Linked DNA regions of Homo sapiens. The protein of the gene in region 2 interacts with the protein of the main gene of each other region in a biochemical or structural test. Each region holds a gene or a part of one and is shown on either strand. Other genes may lie near its edges.

Region 1 (3,600 bases), on a different chromosome or scaffold from region 2:
TTAATCCCATTTTATAAATGAAAAAATGGAAGTATTAAGAGATTAAGTAACTTTACTGAGGTCATATAGTTTCTAGCAGATGGAATGAGAACTTGTGTAGGGCCTGTAACTCCCAATCCCATGTCCTTTCTCCTAAAACATTCAGTGATTCATTCAACAAATGTTTACTGAACACCACCTATGTGCCAGGCACAGTTTTAGGTCCTGGGTATCTGAGAGTGAACAAAATAGACAAGACCTTGCTCTCCAAGAGCTTACACTCTAACTGGAGAGAGACAATAATATAGTATGTCCGGGTGTGGTGGCTCTCACCTCTAATTCTAGTACTTTGGAAGGCTGAGGTGGGAGGAGCGTGTGAGGCCAAGAGTTTGAGACCAGCCTGGGCAACATAGCAAGACCTTGTCTCTACAAAAAATAATTAGCCAGGCGTGGTGGCATGTCTGTAGTCCCAGCTACTCAGGAGGCTGAGGCAGGAGGATCAATTGAGCCCAGGCTGAGGTGAGAGGATCGCTTGAGCCTGGGAGATTGAGGCTGCAGTGAGCTATGATTGCAACATTCATTGCACTAGAACCTGAACAACAGAGTAAGACAATGTATCTAACAAAAAAAAGAGGGTGAGACAGAATGTGTATATATGTTAGTCTATATGAGGCTCTTTGGTGTTAATTTGGCAAACACCTGAAGGAAAAAGGGCAATGACAGAGTGGTGTTCAAGGCAGAGAGTACAGCAAATGCAAAGTTCTTGAGGCAAGAGCATATTTGGCTGTCATTCCATCACTTTTTTCTTTAAGATACTGTATCGGTTAACTATCCTCATGTACCAAAGAACAAATGTAAACATACTGCATGACTTTGAGTGATTAACTACATAACTTTGACATGTCAACAATCTCTTATGGTGGTCATCTTTCCAATAAATTGAGTTGAGCTAGAAAATGTGTATTGCCAAAATCCATTGATTTACTTTAAAAATTAAATCACAGGTTGCGGATGCCCGTAATGGTGGCATTTCCACACACAGTACTGTTGCTGATTTGATGAGACACAAATATATTCCAACCCCATTTTCAAATATTAAAAGTTGGTAGGGTCCTCAACGAAACCTAACAGTGACTTCAAGTTGAAAAAAAATGCTTAAAAGGAAAAAAACAGGGAGAGCCCACCTTTTGGCCTGTATCTCTCAGAAAGAGGGACAAGAGCGGTGGGAACGTGAGGAACTTTTAAAATGTGAGAGCGTTACTCTGGGGAAACCTGGAGTTTACTCTTGGCCTTTACTCGCTGGACTGTCATAGTTCTCACATTTGTGAAGCGAGTCTGGGCTGGCGGCCCTCAAGCCCTATCCTCCCCCGATGCGGAAGTCTTGCTTCTCTGTGCCTCCCAGGCTTGAGAACAGCAGAGTCTGGCCGCTCAAAACGAAAGCTTCACGAACGTCGCTCGCTCGGTGCTGAGAAAGAAGCCTGACGCGACCCGGGAAACTTGACCGACGCACGCCCGCCCGCTTGCCCCGCCCCCTAACGGCTTCCCGGCTTCCCCCGGGTCCTATGCAGAAAAGACGCTGGGCCTGGCAAGCGGGGCCAGTAGCGGCTTCCGGGAGGAGTTTTGGCCTCCACACGGCTCCGTCGGGCGCCGCGCTCTTCCGGCAGCGGTAGCTTTGGAGACGCCGGGAACCCGCGTTGGCGTGGTTGACTAGTGCCTCGCAGCCTCAGCATGGGGGAACATGGCCTGGAGCTGGCTTCCATGATCCCCGCCCTGCGGGAGCTGGGCAGGTAGGGCTAGGCCCAGCCTGGGTCCTGCATCCTCCTCCGCTGATTCCGGCTTGGGTTTCACGTGCTCTCCCCTCCCCTGCTGCGCTATGGCTGGGATCCCCTAAGCCCCCGCTGCGGCCCTTGTGGAGATGCTCCGTGGCTGATTTGGGCGCTTCTCCCTCAGAGTGCCCGTTGATAGCACATGGGGCAGTCGCCACAAACCTGCGGGAAGCCGGTCCGTGGGGGAGAGAGGCGTCTGCCGGCCCTGGTTTACCACTCACCCCGATCGAGAGTTTGCTTCCTGCAGCTGGAGGAAGAGTCCCTGCTGATCGCTTTCTGGTCACTTTTCTACACTCATTTTCTTCTCGAAAATCTTTTTCCTTAGACGAGGGACTTGACCCATCAGTTTCTGTTCTTTGTGATCACTCGTGGAGGAATTGGTTTTTAGCCTTACATTTTGTCCCCAAACTGCCCTTGAAAGAAAATCACCGCTTCTCATTTTCTGCAAGTGACATCACTTGCTGGAAAAGGCAGTTTTTTTCTTTGAAGTGAAGTCATAGTACATACTGAAGATGTGACCTCCCTCGTATTGATCGTCCAGTTCCCGATCCGTTATTTTAGTCAGAAATTGGAGAGATAGACCCCTGGGTCCACAAAATCTCAGCGTGCACAGAGTGTTGCCAAAATTTGGAGACAATTTAATATTTCATTTGCAAATGCATGTTGTCTGTAAACCTCATGAAAACCAGTATCTTACCACAAGGAGGGAGAGGTGTTGATGGCTCTCACACCTCTTCAATACACAGGCAGGCTTCCCTGAACCAGGCCTAAAGACTCGGTAGAGCTTGTTTTGCTTTGTTTGTTTTAATTCTACACTACTGCGAACAAGAAATAAATAAGCTTGTGCTGCTACCGCAGTTAAATTATCATTTGGAATAACTGCTTCCCAATTTCTTAAACTGTTTGAAAACTTTCCACACAAAGTCAAAGCTGACATTAAGCCAATGGGATAGCTACTTCTCTTTCTTTTTGCAGCGCAGTTGTGTTCATTTCCACTGGTTGGCCATCCAAATAATCTAGTCTCAATATATGAATAAAAGGATAAATGAAGGGACCATTCTTGTCGTAACTGCATCACTATTTTTGAGTGTGTGAATTTTTTCCACTTATCTGTGGCAAGTATACTTTGTGTTTAGTTTATAAAATAACCTCTACCTCTCTAAAAGAAGAGGAAGAAAAGTGATCATTGTAGGAAGTTGGTTTACAAATTTCATCTTTCAGGCTCATTGTGAAGCTGAGTATATTTTTGCCACTTTGCTTTAAAGTAGAATTAACTGGTTAATACTTCTCTTCCCTCTTCTGTCTTCCTCCGTGAGTCCTGTTAATAAAAATAATTGGTTCTTGGATTATATATAGTCGGTTTCATCAGTAGAGTTTATGTTACCTTTCATTTATTTGTAGCTATTCCAAGAGAAAGAATAGAAAAACTGACCCACAGAGAGTTGTCTAATAGTTTTTAATTGTCATGGCTTTTTCATTACAACTACTTGAATCAAAAAAGCTAATCAATTTTCATAGTATATCCATGACATAGAATGAAACAAGTGTTACCACTGTTTAAGAAAAAGGGACAGAGAAGTTGAAGAACCAAAGGCACAGCTAGCAGATAACAGAGCTAGGTTTCAGATTCAAGCTTTCAAGGCCTTTTCTTCCAAAATGTTTCCTCTTAATTGACTATGGCAATTAGACTACTGAAAAAAAAAGATATTAGTGTTCTAATTTATGGGCTGCTCTTCCTCAGTCCCTCAGATAAATTTTGTCCTATTGTTTTTTTGCTATTAGCAGTCTGCTCTGC
Region 2 (3,948 bases):
TGTTTACCAGGCTGGCCTTGACCTTCTGGGCTCAAGTGATCCTCCTGAGTAGTGGGTACTACAGGTGTGCACCACCATGCCCAGCTAAATTGACAGTTTTCATCAGTCTGTTTATTTTGTCTAATGTTAGTATATCCACATCAGCTCACCAGCTATCTTGTGTATTTTCCTTTTTTTAGATGGAGTCTCACTATGTTGCCTAGGCTAGACTGTAGTGGCTACTTAAAGGCACGATCATAGTGCAATGCAGCCTCAAATTCCTGGGCTCAAGTGACCCTCCTGCCTTGGCCTCCCAAGTAGGTGGGACTGCAGGCATGTACCACCATACCCAGCTACCAGCTCTCTTTTGGTTATTGTTTCCATGGTCTATTTTTTTTTTCCTTTTCCTTTTAACCTATTTGTGTCTTTGAATCTAAAGTGCCTTAGCCAGGTGTCATGGCTGACACCTGTAATTCCAGCACTTTAGGAGGCTGAGGTGGGTAGATCACTTGAGGCCAGGAGTTTGAGACCAGCCTGGCCAACATGGTGAAACCCCATCTCTACTAAAAATATTTTAAAAATTAGTTGGGCGTTGTGGTGTGCACCTGTAATGCCAGCTATTGGGGAGGCTTTAGGTGGGAGGATAGTCTGAGCCATTGGAGATCAAGGCTGCAGTGAGTCGTGATCTGATTGCATGACTGCTCTCCAGCCTGGGTGACAGAGCAAGACTGTCTCAAAAAAAAAAAAAAATCGCTTCTTAGCCTTTTGGCTAAGATCAAGTGTAGTATCTATTCCTATCAGTTTAAGTGCCTTAATTTCTCTTCCACTTTTTGGACAGGTAGTTTTGCTGGATATAGAATTCTTATTAGCTTTTGTCTTTCAGCACTTTGATTATGCCACTACTGCCTTCTAGCCTTTGTGGTTTCTGATGAGAAATCAGCTGTTAATCTTACTGAGGATCTCTTTTATGTGAGACGTTGCTGCTCTCTTGCTGCTTTTATGTTTCTCTGTTGACCACAGTTTGACTATGGTGTATCTTGGTGTGGATTTCTTTTTTCATTCTGTTCGGAGTTCGTTGAGCTTCTTGGATATGTAAATTAATGTTTTTAATCACACTTGGGAAGTTTTTGGCCACAATTTCTTCAGATTTTTTTTTTTATATCTAACTCTCCTCTCCCTCTTGGACTCATTATGTTTATTGTTGGTATACTTGATGTGCCACAGTTCTTAGACTCTGTTCATTTTTCTTTATTCTTCTTTCTTTATGTTTCTCAGGGACAGTTTTGGTTGCTGTTTTTCCTTTATAAGGGCCATACTTTGTTTCCTTACATGCTTTGTAATTTTTTGTTGAAAACTGGACATATTGTGGCAATATGTGGCAACTCTAGAAAGTCAGATTTTCCCCTCTTGCCAGTGTTTGTTACCGCTTGATGTAGTTGTTTGTTTTTTTTAGTGGTGTTTGTTTTTTTTTTTTTTTGAGACGGAGCTTTGCTCTTGTTGCCCAGGCTGGAGTGCAGTGGCGTGATCTTGGCTCACTGCAGCCTCCACCTCCTGGCTTCAAGTGAGTCTCCTGCCTCAGCCTTCCAAGTATCTGGGACTACAGGCACCTGCCACTGTGCCTGGCTTTTTGTATTTTTATTAGAGATGGGGTTTCATCATGTTGGCCAGGCTGGTCTCGAACTCCTGACCTCAGGTGGCTGGGATTACAGGTGTGAGGCACCATGCCCGGCCCTAGTGATTTTTCTTATATAATTTTTTAAAGTTGGTATTGTTTGTCATGCATGGCTGTACAATTTCTGTCCCATTAGTTTTAGTGGTCAGCTAATGATTGGACAGAGATTTCCTTAAATTCTGTATACCAAAAACAAAAAATCTGCAGAGTGTTCTGTATTTGTGTTGGGGCACACCTGCAATACTCAACCAAGAAGTTTACAACGTTGCTTCAGCCTTCGCTATCTGCTTGTGCAAAATGCAAAGTTAGGGCACATGTAGAGCTTAGGGGCCTTCTCAGCTCTTTCCTAAGCATATGTACTGCCCTGGTCATGGGTGTGTCTTTTTAGATTCCCAGGTATATGTTGGACCTTTTCAGAGTCCTATTCCCCAGAAACATCTCACTCCCTAACCTCTTCTTCCAAACTTCTTGGGTAGTCTGTTTGCACCAGTTGCTTTCATTGCTTCAGGCAACAGAGACTAAAGCATTTTCCTGTAAGTGTTTTCAGCAAACGCTACTCAGGAGTAGCTTTAGCACAAGGTGAGTTAGAGTTACAAAGGTGAAATAAAGACAAGCCTCTTTTTTTTTTTTTTTTTTTGAGATGGAGTCTCGCACTGTTGCCCAGTCTGGAGTGCAATGGTGTGATCTCAGCCCACTGCAACCTCTGCATCCCGGGTTCAAGCGATTCTCCTGCCTCAGCCTCCCAAGTAGCTGGGATTACAGGCGCCTGCCACCACACCCTACTAATTTTTGTATTTTTAGTACAGACAGGGTTTCACCATGTTGGTCAGGCTGGTCTTGAACTCCTGACCTCAGGTGATCCACCCACCTCGGCCTCCCCAAGTGTTGGGATTACAGGCATGAGCCACTGTGCCTGGCCAGGACAAGCCTTTTGATCAGGTCATTTTAGAGGGTCAGATCGGCTTAAGATAGTTTGTAAATGAGGTTTATTCTGCTCCCACCTGGACCTATGCCTTAAATATGAACTGTTATTTTCAAGGCTGCTACTGAGTGAGGAGCAGGGGATAAACAGGGTAAGTTAAAATGCCAGAAAGCTCACTGTTCTTACTGCGTTTCACTTGTTTTGAATAAGTTGCTGCAAGCTTTTAGCTAGTTTACAATGTTCTGAAAAAGTTGATTCTGACAGGCTTTGGCAGGTTTTTAAAATTGCTTTTGTGGAGTAATGGACTTCTGGAGTTCTTTTCTCTGCCATTTTCACTGACATCACTCCTTGATTCACTCTCTCTCAGTTCTTGAAGTATTTTCTTTGTCTTTGAAGTTTAAGAGCTTAATTCAGATGTGTTGAGTTGAATATCTTGTATTAATTTTCCCAGAACATAGTGGGTTATTTCAGTGCTGCACAGTCGTGGTATGGTTGTGTGTTTTCATAGTTTCTTGAAGTAAGAATTATTACAAAAACTTTTGTAATTTGGGCTGTGTTTTTTGGGCAAATCTGCTGATCTCGCTCGGGCTTAACTCATCCAGCTGTAGTCATTTGATGTCTTTACTGTGGCTGGTGGTCTAAAACATCCTTACTCCCATATTTGGAGTCTTGGCACTGTCTGTTAGCTGAGTCTTTTCTTTCTGCATCATTCAGCTAGGCTGAGCGTCTTTCCATGCCATAGGAACGTTCTAAAAGACTGAAAGTGGAAGTTGAAGGCCTCTCAAGACCTTTGCCATCTTCTAATTGCCGCTCTAGCTTTTCAGCCACAAGTCAGGCCTTTTTCTTTCTCACATTTTAATAATCTTGTTTTTCCTCCCATTATGTTTTCATCTTTGATTGTTTCTTCTTTCAGTGGTATTTTGGTAAAAGACAGTAAGTTTTGTTGCTATGAGTTCATATACACTCAATCCCTAGGAGCTGCACCCCTGTTGATAGATTGGGTTGGGGACACACATACCCACTGGGAGAAGAGAGACTCTGGAATGAGTGAGATTATCAGCATACTTAATATTACTCCTGTTATGGAGGTAGCCAGCAAATTTTTTTTAATTGATACAATAATTGTAATGTATTCATGGGGTATGTAGTGATGTTTTGATTCATATAATGTATAATGATCAGATCAGGATAATTAGCATATTCATAATTTCAAACATTGTGGGAATGGGAATGTTCAGTGATGGGAATGTTCAGTATCCTTCTAGCAATTTGAAACTCTATTATTGTTAAGTATAGTCATCCTACAGTGGTCTAGAACTTACTCCTATCTAGCTGTAATTTTGTATTCTTTCATGAATCTCTATCTTTCCCTTCC

What was found. The genes of interacting proteins can lie anywhere in the genome.
Region 1: of the proteins of CHEK1 (region 2) and ATR, one has a biochemical effect on the other in vitro, tested with the Homo sapiens proteins (7 studies listed by BioGRID, with this or other methods).

Annotation. Positions count from the first base shown.
Region 1 is NC_000003.12:142,576,812-142,580,411, reverse strand, and holds the start of ATR (serine/threonine-protein kinase ATR), read left to right. Parts: upstream 1-1,678; 5' UTR 1,679-1,707; coding exon 1,708-1,766; intron 1,767-3,600. UniProt on the Homo sapiens protein: Serine/threonine protein kinase which activates checkpoint signaling upon genotoxic stresses such as ionizing radiation (IR), ultraviolet light (UV), or DNA replication stalling, thereby acting as a DNA damage sensor.
Region 2 is NC_000011.10:125,649,018-125,652,965, forward strand, and holds part of CHEK1 (serine/threonine-protein kinase Chk1), read left to right. Parts: intron 1-3,948. UniProt on the Homo sapiens protein: Serine/threonine-protein kinase which is required for checkpoint-mediated cell cycle arrest and activation of DNA repair in response to the presence of DNA damage or unreplicated DNA.